7 linked regions of the Homo sapiens genome follow. The protein of the gene in region 1 purifies or fractionates together with the protein of each later gene. This does not show direct contact. Each region holds a gene or a part of one and is shown on either strand. Other genes may lie near its edges. The genes, in order: TCTN2, BACE2, CSGALNACT2, KCNJ8, PGAP6, ITPRIP and ABHD14A.

Region 1 (3,393 bases):
TTTCTTGGGGAGCCTTGAGTCTGTAAATACTTTGAATGGAAAGCTTTTTTTATTGAGCTAATTAATGGAATTGCCTTTTGGGACCAGAAAGAGCCCAATGAGTGTGCGCATCTGCTTTGCCCCTGCCCAGCTCTCCCTGCAGATGCTGCTCTGCCCCTCTCCTCTGCCTGGTGGGTAGGGATCAGCCCTCTGGATCCTGTCCCTACCCTTTCCATCTCCTCTGAGGTCAGCTAGGCTCAGTAGGCTGGAATTCACACAACGGCCCATACAGACACACACCTGTATTGTGCCTACTCCTTGTGATTGGGGTCATGGTGATGAGGACCCTCCCTTCCCCCTCTTGGTCATGGATAATGTGATATGTCTGTGAGCTTGAGGTGCCCCAGACCACTCTCTGACTTGGGGAGGGAGTCCTGTTGGACTCCACCCCCACGGGGCACTCAGGCTGCTGTTTGCTCATCTAGCTGGTGCTCAAGGCACTGGGCCCAGACCTAGATCCTCATTTGCAAACGGAACCCAGAGGTCGAGCTTGTCAAGCCCTGGGCTCTGCCACCCAGGCCAGCTAGATAGGCTGTGGAATGACCCTGAGGGCTGGAGAAAAGTCAGCAGTTGGGAAATAAACGGTAGGGAAAATGTCCAGACGGAGAACCCAGGTTGATGAGGTACGAAATCAGTGTGGTGATGACATTTTGTTGCCTTCAAGGTGGAAGGGGTTAGCTTTTATTTCATGTCTGAGCCAAAAAGCAACCTTGATCCTGGTTAATAAGCAGAAGAGAAGTGGTGTTGACACATGTATAAGGAAATTAGACATAAAACAGTGTTACTGACCTTCGGAATCCCTGAAGGAGCAAAGAACCCCCTTCAGAGGAGCCATAGAACCTACCCTACTTCCTCCAATTGACCTTGCTGGGTTTTCTCCAAGACGAATGCAAATTCATTTCTCATTCAATTTCATTCTCTTCCAATTGTATTAATACTATGGTAACACATTAGGAAATTACTTACCTATCTAATACATACTAATTAAAGTCGTTAGTGTGGATTTTGTTTTATTATTATTTTTTTTTCAATTATTATCATTATTTTTTTTTTGAGATGGAGTCTCACTTTGTTGCTGGAGTGCAGTGGCATGATCTCGGCTCACTGCAACCTCCACCTCCCAGGTTTCAAGTGATTCTCCTGCCTCAGCCTCCCAAGTAGCTGGGATTACAGGTGTGCGCCACCATACCTGGCCAATTTTTGTATTTTTAGTAGAGACAGGGTTTCACCATGTTGGCCAGGCTGGTCTCGAACTCCTGACCTCAGGTCATCCACCCACCTCAGCCTCCCAAAGTGTTGGGATTACAGGCGTGAGCCACCACGCCCGACTGATTTTTATTTTTATTTTTTGAGATGAGGTTCTCACTTTTGTCCAGGCTGGAATGTAGTGGTGCCATGCCATCACGGCTTACTGCAGCCTTGACTTCCCAGGCTGAAGCAATCCTCTCACCTCAGCCTTCTGGGTAGCTGGTGTGTGCTACAGGTGTGTGCCACCATGACTGGCTATTTTATTTTTCTCGAGGAGACAGGGTTTTGCTATGTTGCCCAGGCTGGTCTCAAACTCCTGGGCTCAAGCAGTGCTTCTACCTTGACCTCCCAAAGTGCTAGGATTATAGGCATGAGCCACTGTGCCTGGCCTAAAGTTGTTAGTATGGATTTTAAATGTCTTACACAGCTTTTACTAGAACTGTGACTGCATGGAATAACGATGGCATTTCACTGCAATTATATATGTTTCTGTTAAAAGGCTGGGTAGATTTCAGTGGGAGCTTGGAAACTGAATCATGATTTATGGCTTTAATATGTGGGTCAGGGCTTTTAAGTTCCAGTGACTGGCTAACATACAAGGAAACTTTTTTTTTTTTTTTTTTTTTGAGACAGAGTCTCCCTCTGTCGCCAGGCTGCAGTGCAGTGGTGTGATCTTGGCTCACGGCAAGCTCCGCCTCCCAGGTTCACGCCATTCTCCTGCCTCAGCCTCCCAAGTAACTGGGACTACAGGCGAGCACCACCACGCCCAGCTAATTTTTATACTTTTAGTAGAGATGGGGTTTCACCATGTTGGCCAGAATGGTCTCGATCTCTTGACCTCGTGATCTGCCCGCCTCAGCCTCCCAAAGTGCTGGGATTACGGCGTTAGCCACCGCACCCGGCCCATACAAGGAAACATTTTAAACACAATTTTTATTAGTGCCATCCTATGCCTTGTAGACTTTAAGGGATAACACAGTTATGGAGTGACAAGTAACTAGAGCCTGTAAGAGACTAAAGCCTCATTAATGTGATGCCTGCCTGATATTATTCCCCATTTTGGTTATTACGACATTGTAGGAAAACTTATCAAATTATTCTTTGAAAAGTGTATAACTTAACATTTCTATAGGTGTAGATGCCCCTGATCCAGGTGCAGACCCGCTGGCTAGCAGTGTGAACGGCATGTGCCTGGATATTCCTGCTCACCTGAGCATCCGCATCCTCATCTCGGATGCTGGCGCGGTGGAAGGGATTACTCAGCAGGAGATACTCGGTGTAGAGACAAGGTATGATCACATCTTGGATCACCGTAGTTTAGAGAGAGTCAGGAAAGTTGAGAGCATCCCAAACAATAGGGAAATGTTTATTTAGAAACTGATTGTTTATTTACAACTTGCAATTATTAGCAAGATGTTTATATGCACATATGGAATATGTACGAACTATGTGTATAATGGAGACTTATTCTCACAAGTATTTATAAAGCCATATGTAAGAGAGTCTGCAAGTTATTTTAGGGAGTACAAAGATGAATAAAGGGCCCCTTAGTACTAAGTATATTTTGAAATCCATGGATGTAACTGATAATCTGATCAGAGAATATTGTCTGTGGTTAGAGACTTTGGCAGCAGATAGGTTCAAATCATGGCTGTCCTACTTAGGAGCTGTGTGACACTGGCCAATTACTTAACCTTTCTGAGCTGTAGTTTCCTCCTCTGTAATATGGTGATAATACCTTTATGTATCAAGCCTCCATCAGTTTTTTTTTTTTTTTTTTTTGAGACAGAGTCTTGCTCCGTCTCCAGGCTGGAGTGCAGTGGCAATATCTTGACTCACTGCAACCTCCAACTCTCTAGTTCAAGCGATTCTCCTGCTTCAGCCTCCCGAGTAGCTGGGATTACAGGCACGTGCCACCATGTCCAGCTAATTTTTGTATTTTTAGTAAAGACAGGGTTTCACCCTGTTGGCCAGGATGGTCTCAATCTCCTGACCTCATGATCCGCCCGCCTCGGCCTCCCAAAGTGCTGGGATTACAGGCATGAGCCACCGCGCCCAGCCTGCCTCCATCGGTTTTAAGTGACAGGCGCCCAGTTCATACTGACT
Region 2 (3,500 bases), on another chromosome or scaffold:
GGGCATCCTCTGTATGTCTTGCTGGATGTGAGGGAGACACAGAGCACACGAGGGCTTCTGAAATCTGGCCTTGGGGGAATAAGAAGCCTTTTATGCTTCTGGAGTATAGATTTGTGCCTTTCCTGCTTCTTTCCTGCCAGAGTTCATCTGGCAGAGCTAAGCCTCACCCCAGGCTCTGGGGTCCGGGGGATACTGTCCTCCCAGGTCAGCCACCTCTCATTTGCATGGTGGACAGCTGCGGCTGACAGGCAAACAAAGATGTCTGCGGCCATGGCAGCTCCTAGAGAAACTCTTCTCTCCTTACTCTCAAATGCCTAAGATTAGGATCCACCACCTGCCACGGTAACCTACTTCCACGGCTTCTCACACCCCCTCACAAGGCAGTCATGATGATAGATGTGACTGCGTCGAATGGCTTCCAGAAATATGATCTTATTTGTACAACAGAGCCGTGCCCAAAGGAAGAATGCCAACCAGTGGGAAGCTCTGCTGGGGCTTTCTGAATTCCTAGACCCAATCACAAGCTGGTGTACTGTTGAACCATGAAAAAATTGAGTATAAACACCAGGAATGTCTGTGGCGCGTGGCGTCTACACTGGGTGACCCATGTCTACACTGTGAGTCCTAAGCGGGTGCCCCTCTCTGTCGCCCTCCCGCAGCCATCAAGTTCTCTGGAGACCTTCTTCGACTCCCTGGTGACACAAGCAAACATCCCCAACGTTTTCTCCATGCAGATGTGTGGAGCCGGCTTGCCCGTTGCTGGATCTGGGACCAACGGAGGTAGTCTTGTGGGTATCTTTTAGTCTTAAAGGGGCGAAAAATCACAGATGGATGGGCTGTTTTTTTCTGTTTTATTAAACACCTGAGCAGAAATATTAGGCATGTAGGTGTGCGTAGGTACTGTAAAACTTTCATCCTCCTTGTAGTAGATCTTTTTAGAAATGGCTAAAATTAGGCAATCCTTTATGTCATCCTGCCATCTGGAAGGATGATTCTCATCGCTTCTCCGAATTCCATTAAAACTTTTCTTTACCGCCCTTGGAAGGGCACTGCTTTCTGTGGGTGGGGGAGGGACAAGTGAGGAGCGGTGGGGGGCGTGGTGAGTGGACCTGACTGTGGGTAGGGGGCCAAAGGAGAGTTCATAAATTTGGCAGGGAAACAGGGGCCCTTGTAGATCCTTTCTCTCTCTCTCTCTCTCAACACACACAGGCACACACGCACCACAGCACAAGTGTTTGCTGCTGAAACAGAATCAAGGCCGTCAGCACTACGGAGGTGCTGGAGCCTGAGCTTCCCTCCAGGGGCCGGCACCCAGACGTCAAAAGTAGTAGGGGACAGGAAGAATGCACTAGAAGGGGGTGCTGCCAGTCCCTTTGCTGTCTGACTATGAGAGGCAGGATCTGCACCCCGGTCCTCAGCTACTTTCATTTGCTACCATTTCCAGGCAGAGGACAGCATAGGATTTATGAGGAAATGTTTTATGATTTTGCACAATGAAGCTTTGATCAGGGAAGTGCTTGATCTTCTGTTCTCTGACCTCCAAGGAACTAAATAATTGTCAGTCAGTGTGGTTAACTGTTTTATTGCATTTCTTTGAAGGAAAAATCTCAATATTGTAAAGCTAAACTTGTATGTACTTTCTTTGGATAAGAGAAACCTCCAAAGCATCTTGATTAGATGAGGGCCTAATACCATCTGACCTTTGCAGACGTGGACCCATAAAATTCCTTGTTTTATTTTATTTTATTTTATTTCATTTATTATTATTTTTTTTAGATGGAGTCTCGCTCTGTCGCCCAGGCTGGAGTGCAGTGACGCGATCTCAGCTCACTGCAGCCTCCGCCTCCCTGTTCAAGCGATTCTCCTGCCTCAGCCTCCTGAGAAGCTGGGACTACAGGTGCGCGCCACCTTGCCCGGCTAATTTTTGTATTTTTAGTAGAGATGGGGTTTCACCATGCTAGCCAGGCCGTTCTCGAACTCCTGACTTCATGATCCGCCCACCTCAGCCTCCCAAAGTGCTGGGATTACAAGCGTGAGCCACCGCGCCTGGCTCCTTGTTTATTTTTTAAGCATTGATATTTGTTTCATGACATTGTCACGAAGTAGAAGCCCTGATTGCAGTGAAGTTTCTCTTTACAAGTGCATGCTTCTCTGTGTAACCTGTTGATATGTCTGTGTATTTTTTCTCTTATACCTGTAAATATTTCCTGTCCCAGGTCTTGGGTGGAATTGAACCAAGTTTGTATAAAGGAGACATCTGGTATACCCCTATTAAGGAAGAGTGGTACTACCAGATAGAAATTCTGAAATTGGAAATTGGAGGCCAAAGCCTTAATCTGGACTGCAGAGAGGTATTTATGCTATGGTCTCTGTTGTGTCTTTCTGTGTATGTCTGGGTCCCTTAAATATGCCAGCTGGAACCCGTAGATGCCAATAGAAGGTACATTACCTCGTAAGATAAAGGCTCATTACATGAAAAGATGCAGGGCCTTGCTGTACAGTAAGTTGAAATCAATTAATTGTCCTCCCTCCCCACCCCAAATATTGCATCCTCCCAACCACTTATCTTCATAGGGCAAAATTACCATTAAATGGTGAGTGAAGAGGACTATCTGAGCTACACCTTTCACCATTCATTCATCTTGGATTGATGGTCCCTAAGCTCAGTTTAAGAGGTTGAAATAAACAGATTTTTAATCAGTGTAGGACAGAGAAGGACGAAAATTAAGCAAAATGAAACCGAAAAGATCATCAGCTTTTATCCTCCATTCACAGCTAGCCTGGCCCCCAGAGTACCCAATTCTCCCTAAAAAACGGTCATGCTGTATAGATGTGTGTGGCTTGGTAGTGCTAAAGTGGCCACATACAGAGCTCTGACACCAAACCTCAGGACCATGTTCATGCCTTCTCACTGAGTTCTGGCTTGTTCGTGACACATTATGACATTATGATTATGATGACTTGTGAGAGCCTCAGTCTTCTATAGCACTTTTAGAATGCTTTATAAAAACCATGGGGATGTCATTATATTCTAACCTGTTAGCACTTCTGTTCGTATTACCCATCACATCCCAACATCAATTCTCATATATGCAGGTACCTCTTGTCACGCGCGTCCATGTAAGGAGACCACAAAACAGGCTTTGTTTGAGCAACAAGGTTTTTATTTCACCTGGGTGCAGGTGGGCTGAGTCTGAAAAGAGAGTCAGTGAAGGGAGACAGGGGTGGGTCCACTTTATAAGATTTGGGTAGGTAGTGGAAAATTACAATCAAAGGGGGTTGTTCTCTGGCTGGCCAGGGTGGGGGTCACAAGGTGCTCAGTGGGAGAGCCTTTGAGCCAGGATGAGCCAGAAGGAATTTCACAAGGTAATGTCATCAGTTAAGGCAGGGACTGGCCATTTTCACTTCTTTTGTGGTGGAATGTCATCAGTTAAGGCAGGAACCGGCCATTTTCACTTCTTTTGTGATTCTTCACTTGCTTCAGGCCATCTGGACGTATA
Region 3 (3,500 bases), on another chromosome or scaffold:
TCTTGAAACAACCAAAAACAAACAAACAACTTTTCCTGCCAACAAACCCAAAATATGAAACAATGATTTTCAAGATATTTAACATCAGGTAACAAAGGACAGTGATCCCCAGAGAAACAAGAAACAAGTGGTTGCCAGCTTACTGCCTTAGTTTCTGAGCCACACAAGGAGGGGAACCTAAGCAGAGCCCAGCAGATTCCCTGAGTTCATGGGATGCAGCTCATAGTCTGAAGAGACCAAGGTATCTAGGATTAAAGCATATAGTACCAGAGTGGATACAGCTGCACACAGAGAGAACTCCAGAAATCTGAATAGGATATCCCATGGGTATTTGGCAGAGCACTGATAAGTAAAGGCTTATGAGGCAACTAACGGGCTAAGGAAAGGACCACACACAAAATTAGAGGACACAGAACCCAGCATTCATACAGGGCCAGGATTAGTGCATGTTCCCAACAGACAGACTGGAAAACCTCAGAATTCCCAGGGCACTCGGTAGAGCACTCAAAAAAATCTTGTCTCAGTAGTGGGAAATAATTAGCTCTAGACTAAACATGGCACTAATCCTGCCAATACATCTTAAAAGCAAGACTTGAAAGGATCACATTATTTCCAAGTAATAGCACAACAAGCCTTAAGAATATTTATAAGAATACAGAAATATCCAGTACTCAACAAAATAAAATTCACAATATCTGGCATCTCAACAAAAATTACCAGGTATAAAAAAATATGATCCATAATGAAAAAAATCAACAATTAAAACTGACCAATGATTAGAACTGACAGATGTGGGAATCTGCAGAAAAAGGACACCAAAACAGCTATCATAACTGTATTTTTAAAATGATGTTTATGTTCAAAAATTTAAGTAGAGGTATGAATGACATAAAAGAGATCCAAGTTAAACTTCAGGAGATGAAAATTTCAGTGTCTGAGATGAAAAATACACTGAATGGGATTAATGGCAGATTAGATATTTTAGAAGAAAATATTAGTAAACTAGAGATGTAGCAAAAGAAACTATGCAACATACAGAAAGAAAAAAGAATCAAAAATATAAACAAAGCATTGATAAGCTCTGTGACAACTTCAAACAGCCTAATATACATGTAACTGGAGTCCCCAAAGAAGGGGGAAGGAGTCAGGAGAAATACTTAAACAAATAAGGCTGAAAATTTCCCAAATTTGATGGAAACTATAAACACACATAAGAAGCTCAACCAATCCCAAATAGCCATAAAGAAAATTATAGCAAGGTACATGATAATCAAATTGCTCAAATCCAATGTAAAGAGAAAATCTTTAAACTGGCCACATGAAAAATGCACATCACATACAAGGAACAAAAGATAATAATGACAGATTACTCTTTGAAAACTGAAAGTAATTAGACAGTGGAACAATGATCTTTAAAGAACTAAAAAGAAAAATATGCCAGCCTACAATTCTATACCCAGAGAAATTATCTTTGAAAAAGGCAAAATACTTTCTCTACATAAAAAGCTAAAGGAATTCATCACCATCATACCTGTACTGTAAGTCTTTTAGGCAGAGGAACATAATACCAGAAAGGAATATGGATTTATACAAAGCAATGAAAAACATCATTAATGTTAACGACATTGGTAACTAAGATTTTTGCTCATTATTATCTAAATCTCTTCAAAAGATAACTGAATAAAATGGACAAAATCCTAGAAAGATAGAAACTAACAAAACTGATTTAAGAAGAAATACCAGATATGAATAGACTTATATGACAAAAGATTGAATTAATAATAATAAAAAAACTACTCACAATGAAAAGTCCAGGCCAAGAGGCTTCACTGGTGGAATGTACCAAACATTTATTTATTATTACTATTATTTTTTTTGAGACAGAGTTTCGCTCTTGTTGCCCAGGCTGGAGTGCAATGGCGCGATCTCAGCTCACCGCAACCTCCGCCTCCCACGTTCAAGGGATTCTCCTGCCTCAGCCTGCCGAGTAGCTAGGATTACAGGCATGCACCACCACGCCTGGCTAATTCTGTATTTTTAGTAGAGATGGGGTTTCTCCATGTTGGTCAGGCTGGTCTTGAACTCTCGACCTCAGGTGATCCACCCGCCTCAGCCTCGAAAAGTGCTGGGATCACAGGCGTGAGCCACCACACCCAGCCTAGCAAACATTTAAATAAGAATTATTATTATTAAATAAGAATTATCTTCACAGACTCTTCCAAAAAATAGAAGAGGAAGCATTCTATAAGGTCAGTATCATCCTGCTACCAAATCCAGACATTAAAAGAAAACCATAGGCCAATATCCTATATGAATATAAATACAAAAATCCTCAACAAAATACTAGCAAAACGAACCCAGCAATATATAAGAGGAATCATACATCATGGCCAAATAAGATTTATCCCAGGACTGCAAGGTTGGTTTAACATCTGAAAATCAATTAATGCAATATACCATATCAATAGAAGACAAAATTCACTTGATCATCTCAACAGACATGGAAAAAGCATTTGACAAAATCCAACACCATTTCCTAATAAAAACCATTCAATAGGGGCTGGGTGCGGTGGCTCACACCTGTAATTCCAGCACTTTGGAAGGCCGAGGTGGGCAGATCCCACGAGGTCAGGAGATAGAGACCATCCTGGCTAGCACAATGAAACCCCGCCTCTACTAAAAATACAAAAAATTAGCCGGGTGTGGTGGTGGCATGCACCTGCAGTCCCAGCTACTCAGGAGGCTGAGTTAGGAGAATCACATGGACCTGGGAGGCGGAGGTTGCAGTGAGCCGAGATCACGCCACTGCACTGCAGCCTGGGCGACAAAGCGAGACTCCATCTCAAAAAACCAAACCAAACCAAACCAAACACCATTCAATAAACTAGAAGACACCTTCCTAATCTAAGAAAAGGGACCTACAAAAAACCCATAGCTAACATTGTATTTAATGATGAAAGACTGTATGCCTTCCCCCAAGATCAGGAATAAGACAAGGATGTCTGTTCTTGTCACTTCTATTTATATTGTACTAGAGGAGGTTGTAGCCAAGGCAATTAGGCAAGAAAATGAAATAAAAGGCATCCAGATTGAAAAGGAAGAAGTAAAACTATCCTTATTTGCAGATGATATGATCTGTATGCAGAAAATCCTAAGGAATTCACTAAAAATCTATTATAACTAATAAATGAGTTCAGCCAGTTGTAGGATACAATATCGATATACAAAAATCAATTGTATTTCTCTACATTAGCAACAAGCAATCTGAAAATGAAATTAAAAAAACAATCCTGTATACAATATGGCATCAAAAAGAATAAAATAGGAATAATGTTAACAAAAGAACTGCAAGACTTGTATTCATAGAAACTACAAAACATTGTTGGAAGAAAGTTAAGATTTAAATAAACAGAAAGACACCACACTCATGATTGGAAGGCTTAATATTGCTAAAATGGTAATATTCCCCAATTAATGTACAGATTAAACACAATCCTCTT
Region 4 (3,500 bases), about 100 Mb from region 1:
TGTCACATCAGTGGGGGCATTAGATTCTCATAGGAGTGTGAACCCTACGGTGAACTGCGAAGGTGAGGGATCTAGGCTGCGGGCTCCTTGTAAGAATCTAATTCCTGATGATCTGAGGTGGAACAGTTTCATCTCGAAACCATTTCCCCCCACACACACCCCCCAGTATTGTCTTCTACAAAACCAGTCCCTGTTGCCAAAAAGGCTGGGGACTGCTGCCCTAAACAATTACAATAATGACATCAAATATCACTAATCACACATCATGGTAACTGATGTAATAATAATGAAAAAGTTTGAAATTTTGTGAGAATTACCAAAATGTGACACACAGACACAAAGTGAGCACGTTTTGAAAAAATTGTGATAATAGACTGGCTGGATGAAGGTTGCCACAGACCTTCAATTTATAAAAATGCAGTATCTGCAAAATACATTACAGCAGAGAAGAATAAAATAAGGCATATCTGTATGTGACCTTGACACAGTCATTTACTAGTTTCTGCCCCTAGTTCTCCCTTTAATCATTTCAGTATTCTCCAGAACACCTAGAGTAGTGCTCCCCAACCTTTTTGGAGCCAGGGACTGGTTTTGCGGAACGCCAATTTTTCCACTGATGGGGGTGGGGGATGGGGATGGTGTGGGGATAAAACTGTCCCACCTCAGATCATGAGGCATTAGATTCTCATAAGGAGGGATAACCTATATCTCCCACATGTGCAATTCACAATAAGGTTCACTATACCATGAGAATCCAGTGCCTCCACTAACCTGACTGGAGGCAGAGCTCTGGCGGTAATGCTGGCTTACCCACTACTCACCTCCTGCTGTGTGGCCTAGTTCCTGACAAGCCATGGACCAGCACTGGTCCCTGGCCTGGAGGTGGGGGGGGGGGGGGTTGGGGACCCCTGACTTAACAAAATTAGATCATCAATAAGACACTTTTCTTTCCAAATGGAAAACAACTCCCTTCTATTAAAAATACTAGTTGTTTGGAATAATGTGTTTTATACTAGTTTTTTTAGCACTGTGCTATTTCTATATGAGACACAAAATAAGTATTAGCTAATGAATATGATTTTAAAGATTATAAATAATAAATTCACTCAGTACTCAGTACCTTCCATATGACTCAAGTCTCCTAAACATAGATACGCAATAAATAATAAACATCTACCTGGTAGAAAGTTTTACAAAGTAAACTGTGCCTTTGTGAAAGTGAAGTATTTCGCAAGGTAAAATATGCATATATATGAAAATATATTAATCTTTTACACAAATTAGGCCCATCACTATGTGACCTATGAAACATTAATAGAATGTTAATAGAATTAGGCCTTAGCTTAAGGGAACTTAATTAATAGAATGTTAATCTCCAGAAGTCTGGAGGTAGATGCATGCAAGAGAGAGAGAGACTGTTCTAAACACAGTTTAGAATTAGGCATTTTACAAGTTTAAGTTGGCTAGTCTTTCTGCAAGCATTTAATAGTCTTTGGTGGAAGAAAATGAAAAGCTCAGCTTGGCATATTTCATTATTCAAAATGTGACCTGATGGTGTTCTTTTCTGATATCATTCCTCACAGGTCTTTCACTTCTGCTTTTCTCTTCTCCATTGAAGTTCAAGTTACCATTGGGTTTGGAGGGAGGATGATGACAGAGGAATGCCCTTTGGCCATCACGGTTTTGATTCTCCAGAATATTGTGGGTTTGATCATCAATGCAGTCATGTTAGGCTGCATTTTCATGAAAACAGCTCAGGCTCACAGAAGGGCAGAAACTTTGATTTTCAGCCGCCATGCTGTGATTGCCGTCCGAAATGGCAAGCTGTGCTTCATGTTCCGAGTGGGTGACCTGAGGAAAAGCATGATCATTAGTGCCTCTGTGCGCATCCAGGTGGTCAAGAAAACAACTACACCTGAAGGGGAGGTGGTTCCTATTCACCAACTGGACATTCCTGTTGATAACCCAATCGAGAGCAATAACATTTTTCTGGTGGCCCCTTTGATCATCTGCCACGTGATTGACAAGCGCAGTCCCCTGTATGACATCTCAGCAACTGACCTGGCCAACCAAGACTTGGAGGTCATAGTTATTCTGGAAGGAGTGGTTGAAACTACTGGCATCACCACACAAGCACGAACCTCCTACATTGCTGAGGAGATCCAATGGGGCCACCGCTTTGTGTCCATTGTGACTGAGGAAGAAGGAGTGTATTCTGTGGATTACTCCAAATTTGGCAACACTGTTAAAGTAGCTGCTCCACGGTGCAGTGCCCGAGAGCTGGATGAGAAACCTTCCATCCTTATTCAGACCCTCCAAAAGAGTGAACTGTCTCATCAAAATTCTCTGAGGAAGCGCAACTCCATGAGAAGAAACAATTCCATGAGGAGGAACAATTCTATCCGAAGGAACAATTCTTCCCTCATGGTACCAAAGGTGCAATTTATGACTCCAGAAGGAAATCAAAACACATCGGAATCATGACAGCAAGATAACCCCAAGACAGTCTTTTATCAAGTTTTGACGGTTTATGCTGGGCACTGCCAGACTGAACCAGAGCTGGAACACAATAATGTGTCCTTCTACATTTTATTACACTAAATGATATTCATATTCAAGCAACAGCACTTTCTGTAGTAATAAAAAGTAACACACCAAGTGGAGGATTCATGGCTTATGCTTGTTTCATACATGTAGAATTCGCAGTGATATACTTAAGTTATGTGCAGGGGTGGGTATGCTCGTTTCTCTCAATTTGAAACACAAGAATTACACTAATAGTAACAGGCCTTGAGCACAAAATTTGGTCAAGAAATGAGTCTGTTTGAAATGCTTAGTTGGTGAAACCCAGATCGCTGTGTTACTAATGATCACTCTGGAAATGCAAATAGAATAGGAGGGGAAAAAACAAAATCATGTTAATGCGTTTTGTACATCAGCCTTCTCCTGTCTCCATGATAACTGCATTTGGTAGGAAGCCTGAGGCAAAAACTGCTTAAGTGGATCTGTTTGTAAGTGGATTCAGTTCATTCGCTTTGTCTGTCGGTGACTCCTGAAGGTTTCCTGGTCCATCTCATTGCGGCCTGTTGGGCAGAGCTGGACAAGGTGTCTTTGAAGGAAAGCTAAGTCTTGTCTCATTTAGGACTGGGTTCCCCACAGTGACAGTCACTTCCTTCAGCATCTCACTTCTTCTTCTAGAATCCCCACAGGGAAATACTGTATTGAATATTTTATTAAAACATTTTCTTTGTACTCACTGTAGTTTTGTGATTCCTCTTTCACAAAATCATCCCAAGTTAAAACTCAAGATGTTTTTAGAGCCATGTAAAAGAGATGTCAAAGTGATAACACTCACTCTGAGATTCCTCTCTCTCAAGTCTGTTTGCTCCAAAACTAGCTTTTTTTTGCTTTGTTTTGATTTTATTTCAGGTTTTAAAATGTCCTCTTGGTTTTTCAATCTAAGCCTGACATACCATAAAAATCCTATAAGCTTTTTTTTT
Region 5 (3,500 bases), on another chromosome or scaffold:
CCGCAGTGGGGTCATCTGCCCCACGTGCCAGCTCAGCCTGGTGCTGGTGCCTTTCTTTTTTTTTTTTTTTCTGAGATGGAGTCTTGCTCTGTCGCCCAGGCTGGAGGGCAGTGCCGCGATCTCGGCTCACTGCAACCTCCGCCCCTGGGTTCATGCCATTCTCCCGCCTCAGCCTCCCGAGTAGCTGGGACTACAGGCGCCCGCCACCACGCCCGGCTAATTTTTGTATTTTCAGTAGAGACGGGGTTTCACCGTGTTAGCCAGGATGGTCCCAATCTCCTGACCTCGTGATCCACCCTCCTCGGCCTCCCAAAGTGCTGGGATTACAGGCGTGAGCCACCGCGCCCGGCCGGTGCTGGTGCCTTTCTCTGAGACTCCTGCAGGCCCACGGTGCACCGGGACCTTCCTCCCCGGGCCCTGGGACATCCTGCCTCCACCCCACCTCTGACCCGAGCTACCCCACAGCCCCGGGGCCTGTTGACAGGAACAAGGCTGCCCAGCAGGGGAGGCCCCCCAACATGGGCCCCTGTCTTGGCCCGTGCCTGCTGGTGTCACTGTGCCGCCTGTCCCGTGCCAAGGTAAATGAGGAGGCGCTGCAGGGGTTGCCCGGCGCCCTGCCCGAGCCCAGGCCACAGGCCGCTTGCAGACAGCAGGTACCTTGTTGGCCCGCAGGGAGATGGTGAGGGAACCCCCGCTGTCCATGCCGGTGTTCAGGCGCAGCCGCATCACGGAGGGCGTGTCCGAACACACCCTCACCGAGACCCTGTCCAGGGGCTGGAAGTGCACCGACACCACGTCCATGTCCTCCCGCGTGACTGGGTAGTTTGTGAGGCAGAAGGGGCTGCGGTCCACCCTGCCACTCCTGCCCAGGTCCTGGTGGTCGGGGCTCGGGGACAGCAGACCAGAGGAGGCATTGAAGCTCTGGTTTTGGCTGCTCTGCAGAAGGGGCTGGATGGTCACGCTCCGTGGCCTGCAAGCTGCCGAGAGGACAAGGGGTTTGGCTGGAGGAAAGTCTGGGGATCTGGGGAGGGGCAGGGCCATCCCTCCAGCCCTTGTGCGGCCCACCTGTGAGGGCAGCTACAGCACTGAAAGCCACTGTCCCGAGGGGCCCCACCAGGCTCTCAGCTGTCACTTGCAGCCACCGGTCCCAGGGCGGTGAGGGCAGCAGCAGGCGGCAGGGCCAGGGGGCACCGGTGCAGGTGAGCACCTTCTGGAAGTTGCTAGGCAGGGTGACCGGGCCCACGGTGAGACGCACGGGGCAGCCCAGGCTCCCATTGGACACGCAGTCCCGCAGCTCCAGCAGAAGCTCCCGCGTGTAATCGGGGACAAAGACCCTGCAGCGAGGGGACACAGCTGGCTCAGGCTCTGCCATTCCTCAGCCCAGGGACGCAGCGTGCCCAGGCTCTGCTGTTCCTCAGCCCACTCTGGTGGGGGCCAGGCATCTGGACCACTTCCCAGCCCAACCCCAGGACTCAGGGCCAGGCTCTCGCACCCACTCCACCGAATCTGAGAAGGGGCCGGAGGGCAGAGCCGGGCTGCCCCCCAGGCCCCCGCTCACTTGAGGTAGCTGGGATGGGAGAGGAGGGTCTGAGGAAGGGGCACGTCCGGCTCCATGATGGAAATCTCGACCACCCGCGTGACCAGCAGTTCAGGCTGGAAGACGTAGGCACAGGTGGGAGCCAAGCCCTAGGGAAAGAACAGGTGTGGGCGGGGGCGGTGTCAGAGAATGCAGGTGTGAGGGCATGGTCTCACCAGACGCCCCCGGCATGCAGGGAGCAGGGCTGGCCCCAGAGTGCAGCGTGGAGCCTAGAGCGAGGACCACCCCAAAGAGGTGAACGGCAGGGACAGGCCATCGCCGCAAGGTTCTCTGCCTCCATCCCGGAGGGCAGCCCCCCTCACCTTCAACTCGATCTTCTGGGATGAGGGGGGCAGGTGGGCGGCCACGAACCAGTCCCCGGGGGCCGGGTGGGAAACGTTGACGGAGGCATTGCTTCTCGGTGTGGTGCTCAGCGGCACCCCGACCTGGAAGGAGGGCTGTACCGCGGTGTCGTCCGGGAAGCTGGTGCCCAGCGGGTTGATGACCGGAGGGGCGCCGGAACGGAAGTGCCTGGAGACGGGAGAGCAGCACCGGGTTCAGGCACAGGGCTTGGCCAGGCGCGGGAGGGTGGGCAGGCGGGCGGGCAGCCACCTACACGGTGATCTCCGCGTCGGTGCAGGCAGCGCCGCTCTCCCGGGAGACCTGCAGGAGCCAGCGTAGAAGCACAGCATCTGGGGGCACGCGGAAGCGGAAGAGCCTGGCACTGCCGTACCAGCTGTAGAAGGACAGCCTCTGCGGGGCCTGCGAGAAGTGCTCGGACACCAGCCCCACCTCTGTGAGGAGAAGGAGGTGTCAGCCAGGCCGGGACCCTCCTCCAGGGCCGCAGATGGGGAGGACGAGTCCCCCAGATGGAAAGGGCTGGAAGCCCCCGGGGACCCACCTGGAGATCTTGGCACACCAACTCTGACCTTGGCAAAGGTCACCGACACCCTCTGGCCCCTCAGCCAGATCCTCTGCTGTCCCTCCCCAGATGGCCTACATCCCACCCTCCTGGCATCTGGGTCTTTTCACAGCTGCCGCCTCACTGCAGCAGCTTCCAAACAAGCCGCAGGGTACCTCAGCAGCCATCGCCACCCTGACTGCCATCGCCACCCGCACTGCCATCCCCACCCGCACTGCCATCGCCACCCTGACTGCCATCGCCACCCTGACTGCCATCGCCACCCGCACTGCCATCCCCACCCGCACTGCCATCCCCACCCACACTGCCATCGCCACCCGCACTGCCATCGCCACCCGCACTGCCATCGCCACCCGCACTGCCATCGCCACTCTGACTGCCATCCCCACCCGCACTGCCATCGCCACCCTGACTGCCATCGCCACCCGCACTGCCATCGCCACCCACACTGCCATCCCCACCCGCACTGCCATCGCCACCCACACTGCCATCGCCACCCGCACTGCCATCGCCACTCTGACTGCCATCCCCACCCGCACTGCCACCCGGACCCCCTCCAACCTTAGAAGACTACACTCCCCATGGCCAACCCAGGTCGAAGCCGAAGGACCCAGCAGGTGTCAGGAAGGAGCCCCCGCCCCTCATCACAGATGCCCTGGATATCAAGGCACGGTCCTCCCACCTCCTCTCAGCCTCCCACATCTCCATCCCTGGATGGGTTGGCTGCCTGCTTGGGCTATGATGACTTTGGACACGGCGAGACCGGAGCCCAAATTCCCCTTACCCAGAGGGAGATACTGCATGTGGGAGGGACCCAGGCCAGAAGCCTGGCCAGTCATGAGAACAAGGGGACAGCTGCCCTCTGCGTTCCAAGCGGGCAAGGCTCCTAACTGTCCTCAGGGAACGCACCCACGCCTGGTGCGGGGATGGAGAAGGGCCCGTGGGAGACATCCTGCTCATGGCCCCAGGCGAGGACTCAGGCTCTCACCCCCAGCCCCCCGT
Region 6 (3,500 bases), on another chromosome or scaffold:
GCTGGGGCATTCTTGAGCATCTCATAGAAGGAGTCCAGTGTCTTACGGTAAAGGCTTCGCTGCAGGACGAAGGGCCGGAAGAGGTTGAGGGGCTCGGCCCTGAGCACGGCCTCAGGGAGTCCCATGGCCTCAGGCACCTTGCGGTTGCCGATGAAGAAGTGGTGGAGCTTCTTCTGGAGCAAGCTCTTCTCCAGGAAGCACAGCAACTCGTGCAGACGAGCGTCCAGCTGCCCCGCCTTCCAGTCGGCGGCCTGCCGGAGGAGTAGGAGGTGCAGTAGGGCCGTCTTCAGGTGGTAGCTGCTGAGCCCGCTGGGACCGGTCAGGCGGCTCTGCTTGGAGAGCAGGAAGGATGCTATCTGCAGGCAGCTGAGGTGGCAGGCGCCCTCGGGCAGTGCCTTTAGTGTCGTCCTGAGGAAGTGTCGCTCATAGACAGCAAAGGACAGGAGCCAGTCTGTGCTGGAGGCTGGGGTGCCCTCAGAGGGCTCCCTGGGAAGGTGGGAGACAAAGTACAGGTCCGAGTCATCACACTGGATCACAGGAATCAGGTTGAAGGGCATGAACTTCCCTGAACGGAACTTGATCTTCAGGGACCCCGGGCTGTCCAGCTGGCCAAAGGCCAGGTCGAACTCGTACTTGTGGGCGATGCCCTTCCAGGCTCTGGTGAGGGCCGTCTGGAACCACTTCATGACCTGCATCGTGTCCAGGTACAGGGAATCTGTGGCACACAGCAGGTTCTCCATGTCGCCGCAGGGAGGCGCCATGCTGTTCCTGCCGTGCAGGAGACACAGCATGTCTTCCCCGAGCTTGGTCTTGCCGCAGATGCAGCTCAATGTGTCCCCATCGGCGCGGACCACCTTGATCTGGCCGTAGCCCTGGCGATCCAGGGGCACTGAGCGGCCGGAGCACCAGAGCTCTGGGTGGAAGCGGTAGGGCTCGGGGGGTGTGAAGGGCACGAAAAGGTGGCACAGCAGTGGCCTGTCCACCTGCCAGTTCTCGTACATGCTGTCCACGCCAATGAAGTCCTCCACCTCCATGTCGGTGTCCCGGTTGCAGAGGCTCCTCAGGGCTTCCAGCAAGTCATCCACGAAGCCTTCCAGGAACTCCCGGGTACGGGCTGCATCGGCCGTGGCCCCCCGGATGCAGCGCTCATAAAAGTGGCCAAGCGTGGCCTTGTTGGGCAGGGTGAGGCCCTGCAAGGGGGCGCCCCCCAGCCCAGGCAGCTCATCCTCCTCACCGCCCAGGCACTCAGGTGAGGGCCCCTCCTGGTGGTCCTGCCGCCACACCTCGATCATCAGGAAGAGGATCATGCAGAGGGTGCTCCAGAGGTCCCAGGCCACGCGTGTCTCGTTCTGCTGCCTGCCCTCCTCCGCCACCTGCTCCAGTGCCTCCTTTTCGGCCGCCAGCCGAGCCACCTCCTCCTCCAGGCGCAACTGCTCCAGCTGCAGCTTCTCCTGGTGCGCCTGCATCTTGCGGATGATCTCCTCCTCGTTCTCGGGGACTGTGGCGTTCTCCCGCGGGAACAGCAGCGGGTGGTTGATGATGGCCGTCACCACCACCAGACACACGCGGAAGAGCCCCATGGCCATGGTTGGAGCTTTCCTGGGAACAGAGAGACAGATGGTCACACCAAGCTTCCCTCAATGCCACTTCGTCCCTGGGCCCCGCACCAACCTCAGCCCCTCAGGGCTGGTTAAGGTCTTAGTTCTCCCACCCAACCCATCGAGAGCTCCCTGCGGCTGCCTCAGGAGCTTCAGTCCAGCCATGGAAGAGCCCCAAAGGCCTACCCTGGGGTGGACATCTGTTTTAGTCCTACCCAGACATTCCTGGATGGCAGCAGCACCCCACTGTCCCTAACCCTTTTCTCCTACCAGTCCTTATGGCCAGGGCGAGGATATACCCACCTCCAAGCTCCTGGGGTGGGCTCAAAACCCAGGCCCAAGACAATCAGACATTCTGCCGCCCAGCTACAGCTAGAGCGATTGGTTCTGGGATGAGCATTTGATCCAATTCGGGCCAATGAGAGACAGATGTAGGGTGTGTTGGGCCCAATAGGAAGAAAGACTCATCCTGTTGCTAGTTTGGTTGCTAGGTTGCTGAGGGAACAGGATTATACCTGCAGTGGGCTCTCGGGAAGGGAGCCCGCCTGAGAAAGACACCAACATAGAGGAAAGCAGAACCCCCCCTCCCCACACTCAGCTCTGCTTGAAGGCATTGCTGTCTGAGCTCTTTAGTCACACAAGTCAATAAAGAAACCCTTTTTAAGTCAGTTTGAGTGGCCTTTCCACCACTTGAAATCAAAATAGTCCTGAATAACATATCCCCTTCTCTCCCAAGTGAATGTCATCTTCCTGCAATACAGTGAAGCCTAGTGGTTAAGGGAGAAAGGGCTAGGTTCCAAACCAGCACTGTCAACTGAAAAGCTGTGTGACCCTGGGCATGTTAACACACCTCTCTGAGCCCTGGTTTCCTTACTGCACAAGGGGAAAGCAATAGTATCTCACAGGGTCATGGTATTGAGAGACGCAATGATCCCTGCAAACTGCATGGCCCAGTGACCAGTGCAAAGCACATATTCACTGAACAATAACTGTTTCGGAAGTAGATTTGAGCCCTTATCCTCCTCTTCTGTAAACGTCTCTTTCTGACCTGGAAGACCTTACCCCATATTCAGACACACTCTCCTGGCTTTTGTCTTTCCCCAGGACAATCTTGATGATGACCAGAGAGCAAAGAATCACTAATTTCTTCTTACCAGGCATGTGAACTTTAAATCTAACTTCTTAATTGTGAAAGGAGGCACTCTGTTCCCCTAGGATAAGTGGATTTTTAAGCCTCAAGTGACTTTTGGAGAAAGGCTAATCCCTACAATCTTTGCAATTCGAAGTATGATTCACGGACCAGCAGCTGCAGTATCTCCTGGGAGCTTGTTAGAAATGCAGAATCTCGGCCCCACCCACACTTACTGAATCGGAATCCACATTTTAATACCATCCATATAAAAATCTGAGAGGCACTGTCTTACGCTGCAAGACTTAGTTACACCCTCTCCTCTCCTCAGCAGGAATCCTGGGACTTAACAATCTGCTATTTCCACACTTGAACTACCCCCCTCCTTGCTTGGGACCTCGATGAAGGAAGCAAATGGCCAAATGCAAATCAGTTGAGGTCCTGAGATTGTTGAGAGCACAGGGCTCCTTCTACCACCCCCTAGTGCACACTAACACTGGCTGATAGGAGCTACTGTGCCAACCTGAGCCCCATTCCCTTTGGCTTGAGCCCGACCTGGAATTTGCACAATGAAATTCTTGTCCTAATGGTGCCAAGGAACAGGGATTTGTCCCCAGGTAAAGATACCTCTGCAGGTTGTCCCTGGCAAGTGGCAGGATGGAGATGGACTGAGTTGGCTGCTGGTCACGCCTAGACAAACTTGCTGCTCAGATGTGACTCAGACAGTTCCACCCCATACACAGCTGGACAGGTCTGCAGGAACCACAAGGGTT
Region 7 (3,633 bases), on another chromosome or scaffold:
AGTCAGGATGGTCTCGATCTCCTGACCTCGTGATCCGCCTGCCTCGGCCTCCCAAAGTGCTGGGATTACAGGTGTGAGCCACTGCGCCCGGCCAATGCTGGCTAATTGTTAAATCGCGTTCCCCATACCCTCTAGGTTCCTGACTTCCTTGGCTTGGCTGTCCAGACCCTGGATTTCCCACCAATCCCTGTGGTCATGCAGCAGCAGTAATACACCCCGCCTCCCACCAGCAATTCCCCAGCCTTATGTGGCCAAGTACTCAGTTATCCAGACTCATTCAGTCCTATAACCACCCTCCAACCTAGGTGTTGCCATCATACCCGTTTTACAGATAAGGAAACTCAGGCACAGAGTGGTGAGGCCAGGCACTTAGGAAGTGGCGCATTCTTAGCCTTCTCAGACTGCTGGACATCCCCTCCAGCTCCCAGGCCCAAAGTAGTCCCAGACTTGCCTCCCACTCCCGTCTTTCCCACAGCACACCAGGAAACGGAACCTGTCACTTCCCAGGCAGGACAAATATGCTTTTTTATTGTGTCTGTGAGATGAAATGAGGAGTCCTGGCTGGGTCTGACCCTGGCCTCTGGCCTCCAATCCCAGAGGCTGTCTCCCTGGTTCAGGGAGGGTGGCGGTCCAGACTGTCCAAGCTCATGCCAGGCTGGGAGCTGGGAGTGGGTTAGTTCAAGGTAGATGGTCAAGGAAGGCAAGCAGGACAAGGTGGAAGTCTTGCGGCTTGTGGAGGTAACAGGCATGGCCTGCATTGCGTAGCTTCACCACAGAGTGGTTGGGCAGGTGGCGGAGCTGCCGCAGTGACTCTCGAGCCAGGATGTGGTCCAGCTCTCCATACAGGATAAGGGTTGGAGTCTGCAGGGCAAGGCAGGGGGCTGTGATCTTGGGGCCTGATGAGTTTCTGACCCCCAAGCCACTTCCTAGGAAGCCTTCCCCAACACCATCCAACTCTTCCATCCAAGGTCAGGGATAAGGCCATGTCCCTCCAAGTAAGACTTGAGTCCTGAACCCCCCCAAGCCACAGACAGGGTGCCAGGACCTTTGAGATCCTTCTCCCAGTACCTTCACAGCCCAGAATTGCTCCTGGGTGTAGTTCTGGGTGGAGGTGGGTGCGATGGGCACAAATCCATGTAGCTGGTGGTGGCCTCGCATCAGGAAGGGCAGGGCATAGTGGCCACTCAGCGAGGGGCTCACCAACACGGCATTCTGTACCTCCAGGTCCCGCAGCGCCCGCTCCAGCAGCGCTGCCCGCCCTGCCTCTGTGCTTGCCTCCTTTGAAGGTGCCGAGTTCCCAAAACCTAGGAACAGCAGCAGGTACCAGCTGAGGGGCACTGGGAAGGGGCACAGGACTTCCTGCCCACCACAGTGGGGGAAAAAGTTGGGGACCACTGGCACTGGCACACACTACCTAAAACTGCCCAGAAGCTATTTTCTGGTAATGTAATATGCCTGTTAGAAAAGCATATCTTGGCCGAGAGTGGTGGCTCACGCCTGTAATCCCAGCACTTTGGGAGGCCGAGGCGGGCAGATCACGAGGTTAGGAGATCGAGACCATCCTGGCTAACACGGTGAAACTCCGTCTCTACTAAAAATACAAAAAATTAGCCAGGCGAGGTGGCGGGCACCTGTAGTCCCAGCTACGCAGGAGGCTGAGGCAGGAGAATGGCATGAACCCCGGGGGGCGGAGCCTGCAGTGAGCCGAGATCATGCCACTGCACTCTAGCCTGGGCGACTGCGAGACTCTGTCTAAAAAAAAAATAAAATAAAATAAAAAATAAATAATACCCAGTGTTGGGGGAGACATGGGGAAATGGGCACTTTCATACATGACAGATGGGAAGATAAATCCATATAGTGTTTTTGGAGGGTGAGATAGTAGTTATCTAAATTTAAAAATGCATGTCCTGGCAGCTGGGCGCGGTGGCTCATGCCTGTAATCCCAGCACTTTGGGAGGCCGAGGTGGCGGATCATGAGGTCAGGAGTTTGAGACCAGCCTGACCAACATGGTGAAACCCTGTCTCTACTAAAAATACAAAAATTAGCCAGGCATGGTGGGGCGCACCTGTAATCCCAGCTACTCAGGAGACTGAGGCAGGAGAATCGCTTGAACCCAGAAGGCGGAGGTTGCAGTGAGCCGAGTACGAGCCACTGCACTCCAGCCAGGGTGACAGAGCGAGGCTCTGTCTCAAAAAAAAAAAAAACAAAAAACAAAAAAAGAAACAAACAAAAAAAAAACAAAACACAACACATCCTTTGGCCCATCAATTGTCCTCAGTAGCTACCCTAGAGAAATTATTGCTCACATGCTCAAAGAAGCATGCCCAAGGATGCTTTAGCTACTATATTGCTTGAGCACTCCGCCAGTAGAGGAATGGCTGAATAAAGCCTGTCCATCCCTCCTATGGGACACACTGCAGGGTTGACAACAAAGAGGGAGGTTTGTAGGGACCGGCATGATCCTTGAGACATGATGTAGGGGGAGAAAACCAAGCTACAGATGGATGTGCTAAGCAGACAGGATACCAATCATGTTTACAGCCCCCACTAGACAATCCTCTACATCGTCTGCATCTTTACATGTGGGAATACCCAGAACAGCGTGTGGCATCCCCTAAACTTCTTAGAGAGGGAGAGAAATGCGGCACCAGTCTCTCAGAGCTTTGCTATTTTTTAGTATTTTTTAATCCTCTATGACTCGACATTTTTTCATTTTTTTAATGACAAGAATGATAGCATAAATCATTTGTGTACTTAAAAACACAAAACCTATATGGTTTGCCATAGAAAGTACACTGCTTGGCCGGGCGCAGTGGCTCACACCTGTAATCCCAGCACTTGGGGAGGCCGAGGCAGGCGAATCACCTGAGGTCGGGAGTTCAGGACCAGCCTGGCCAGCATGGTGAAACCCTATCTCCACTAAAAATACAAAAATTAGCCAGGCGTGGTGGCAGTCACCTGTAATCTCAGCTACTGGGGAAGCGGAGGCAGGAGAATTGCTTGAACCCGGGAGGCGGAGGTTGCAGTGAGCCGAGATTGTGCCATTGTACTCTAGCCTGGGTGACAGAGCGAGACTCTGTTTCAAAAAATATATATAAATAAAATAAAAAAAAAGAAAGTATACTGCTTGTGAAGAGTTTTTATTTGCTCCATGACCTAGAATTCACACTGTAGTTTTCATAGTAGAAAATGAAAACACAGACTTTTTCATGGTGCCACCTTATGTTGTGACCTGCCACGGCCTGTCCAGACCCTAGGGTCCAGTTGCCTCCCAGCCACACTTAAGGCTTCCCTAGACAAAGGGGTGGGGGTGCTCACCTGGAAGGTCAAGGGCCACGGCCCGGTAGCCCCTCTGTGACAGTAGCTGCAGTGTGCCCAGCTGCTCCCACGTGTGAGAGTTAAAGGCCTTTCCATGAAGCAGCACCACCTCCACCCTGCAGGCACACAGGGGAATGTGTTTGCTGGGAACCTGGTGTAGCCCACCTTTCTTTATTCCTAGGCTTCTCCCATTGCCCTCCCAGGACCTGAGCACCCTGAGTATAATGGGGGTCCCACACAGGGACTCCCCTTGAGCCTAGTCCCTCCACTAGACCCTTGGAGCAGCACCTACCTGTGTGCCTGGTTGAGTG

What was found.
Region 2: the proteins of TCTN2 (region 1) and BACE2 purify together in Homo sapiens (affinity purification with mass spectrometry; 2 studies listed by BioGRID and IntAct, with this or other methods). This does not show direct contact.
Region 3: the proteins of TCTN2 (region 1) and CSGALNACT2 purify together in Homo sapiens (affinity purification with mass spectrometry; 2 studies listed by BioGRID and IntAct, with this or other methods). This does not show direct contact.
Region 4: the proteins of TCTN2 (region 1) and KCNJ8 purify together in Homo sapiens (affinity purification with mass spectrometry; 2 studies listed by BioGRID and IntAct, with this or other methods). This does not show direct contact.
Region 5: the proteins of TCTN2 (region 1) and PGAP6 purify together in Homo sapiens (affinity purification with mass spectrometry; 2 studies listed by BioGRID and IntAct, with this or other methods). This does not show direct contact.
Region 6: the proteins of TCTN2 (region 1) and ITPRIP purify together in Homo sapiens (affinity purification with mass spectrometry; 2 studies listed by BioGRID and IntAct, with this or other methods). This does not show direct contact.
Region 7: the proteins of TCTN2 (region 1) and ABHD14A purify together in Homo sapiens (affinity purification with mass spectrometry; 2 studies listed by BioGRID and IntAct, with this or other methods). This does not show direct contact.

The regions. Positions count from the first base shown.
Region 1 is NC_000012.12:123,702,113-123,705,505, forward strand, and holds part of TCTN2 (tectonic-2 isoform 1 precursor), read left to right. Parts: intron 1-2,419; coding exon 2,420-2,576; intron 2,577-3,393.
Region 2 is NC_000021.9:41,241,160-41,244,659, forward strand, and holds part of BACE2 (beta-secretase 2 isoform A preproprotein), read left to right. Parts: intron 1-659; coding exon 660-788; intron 789-2,216; coding exon 2,217-2,351; intron 2,352-3,500. UniProt on the Homo sapiens protein: Responsible for the proteolytic processing of the amyloid precursor protein (APP).
Region 3 is NC_000010.11:43,148,445-43,151,944, reverse strand, and holds part of CSGALNACT2 (chondroitin sulfate N-acetylgalactosaminyltransferase 2), read right to left. Parts: intron 2,159-3,500; exon of another isoform or gene 1,802-2,158; intron 1-1,801. UniProt on the Homo sapiens protein: Transfers 1,4-N-acetylgalactosamine (GalNAc) from UDP-GalNAc to the non-reducing end of glucuronic acid (GlcUA). Required for addition of the first GalNAc to the core tetrasaccharide linker and for elongation of chondroitin chains.
Region 4 is NC_000012.12:21,764,707-21,768,206, reverse strand, and holds the end of KCNJ8 (ATP-sensitive inward rectifier potassium channel 8), read left to right. Parts: intron 1-1,583; coding exon 1,584-2,484; 3' UTR 2,485-3,252; downstream 3,253-3,500. UniProt on the Homo sapiens protein: Inward rectifier potassium channels are characterized by a greater tendency to allow potassium to flow into the cell rather than out of it.
Region 5 is NC_000016.10:375,479-378,978, forward strand, and holds part of PGAP6 (post-GPI attachment to proteins factor 6 precursor), read right to left. Parts: intron 2,371-3,500; coding exon 2,193-2,370; intron 2,108-2,192; coding exon 1,900-2,107; intron 1,687-1,899; coding exon 1,559-1,686; intron 1,335-1,558; coding exon 1,066-1,334; intron 978-1,065; coding exon 658-977; intron 1-657. UniProt on the Homo sapiens protein: Involved in the lipid remodeling steps of GPI-anchor maturation. Lipid remodeling steps consist in the generation of 2 saturated fatty chains at the sn-2 position of GPI-anchor proteins (GPI-AP).
Region 6 is NC_000010.11:104,314,466-104,317,965, forward strand, and holds part of ITPRIP (inositol 1,4,5-trisphosphate receptor-interacting protein precursor), read right to left. Parts: intron 1,600-3,500; coding exon of another isoform or gene 1,587-1,599; coding exon 1-1,586. UniProt on the Homo sapiens protein: Enhances Ca(2+)-mediated inhibition of inositol 1,4,5-triphosphate receptor (ITPR) Ca(2+) release.
Region 7 is NC_000003.12:51,978,064-51,981,696, reverse strand, and holds the end of ABHD14A (protein ABHD14A), read right to left. Parts: coding exon 3,615-3,633; intron 3,439-3,614; coding exon 3,323-3,438; intron 1,305-3,322; coding exon 1,069-1,304; intron 862-1,068; coding exon 679-861; 3' UTR 501-678; downstream 1-500. Other genes in the region: ABHD14A-ACY1 readthrough (NMD candidate), read right to left, coding at 3,323-3,438, 3,615-3,633. UniProt on the Homo sapiens protein: Possible role in granule neuron development.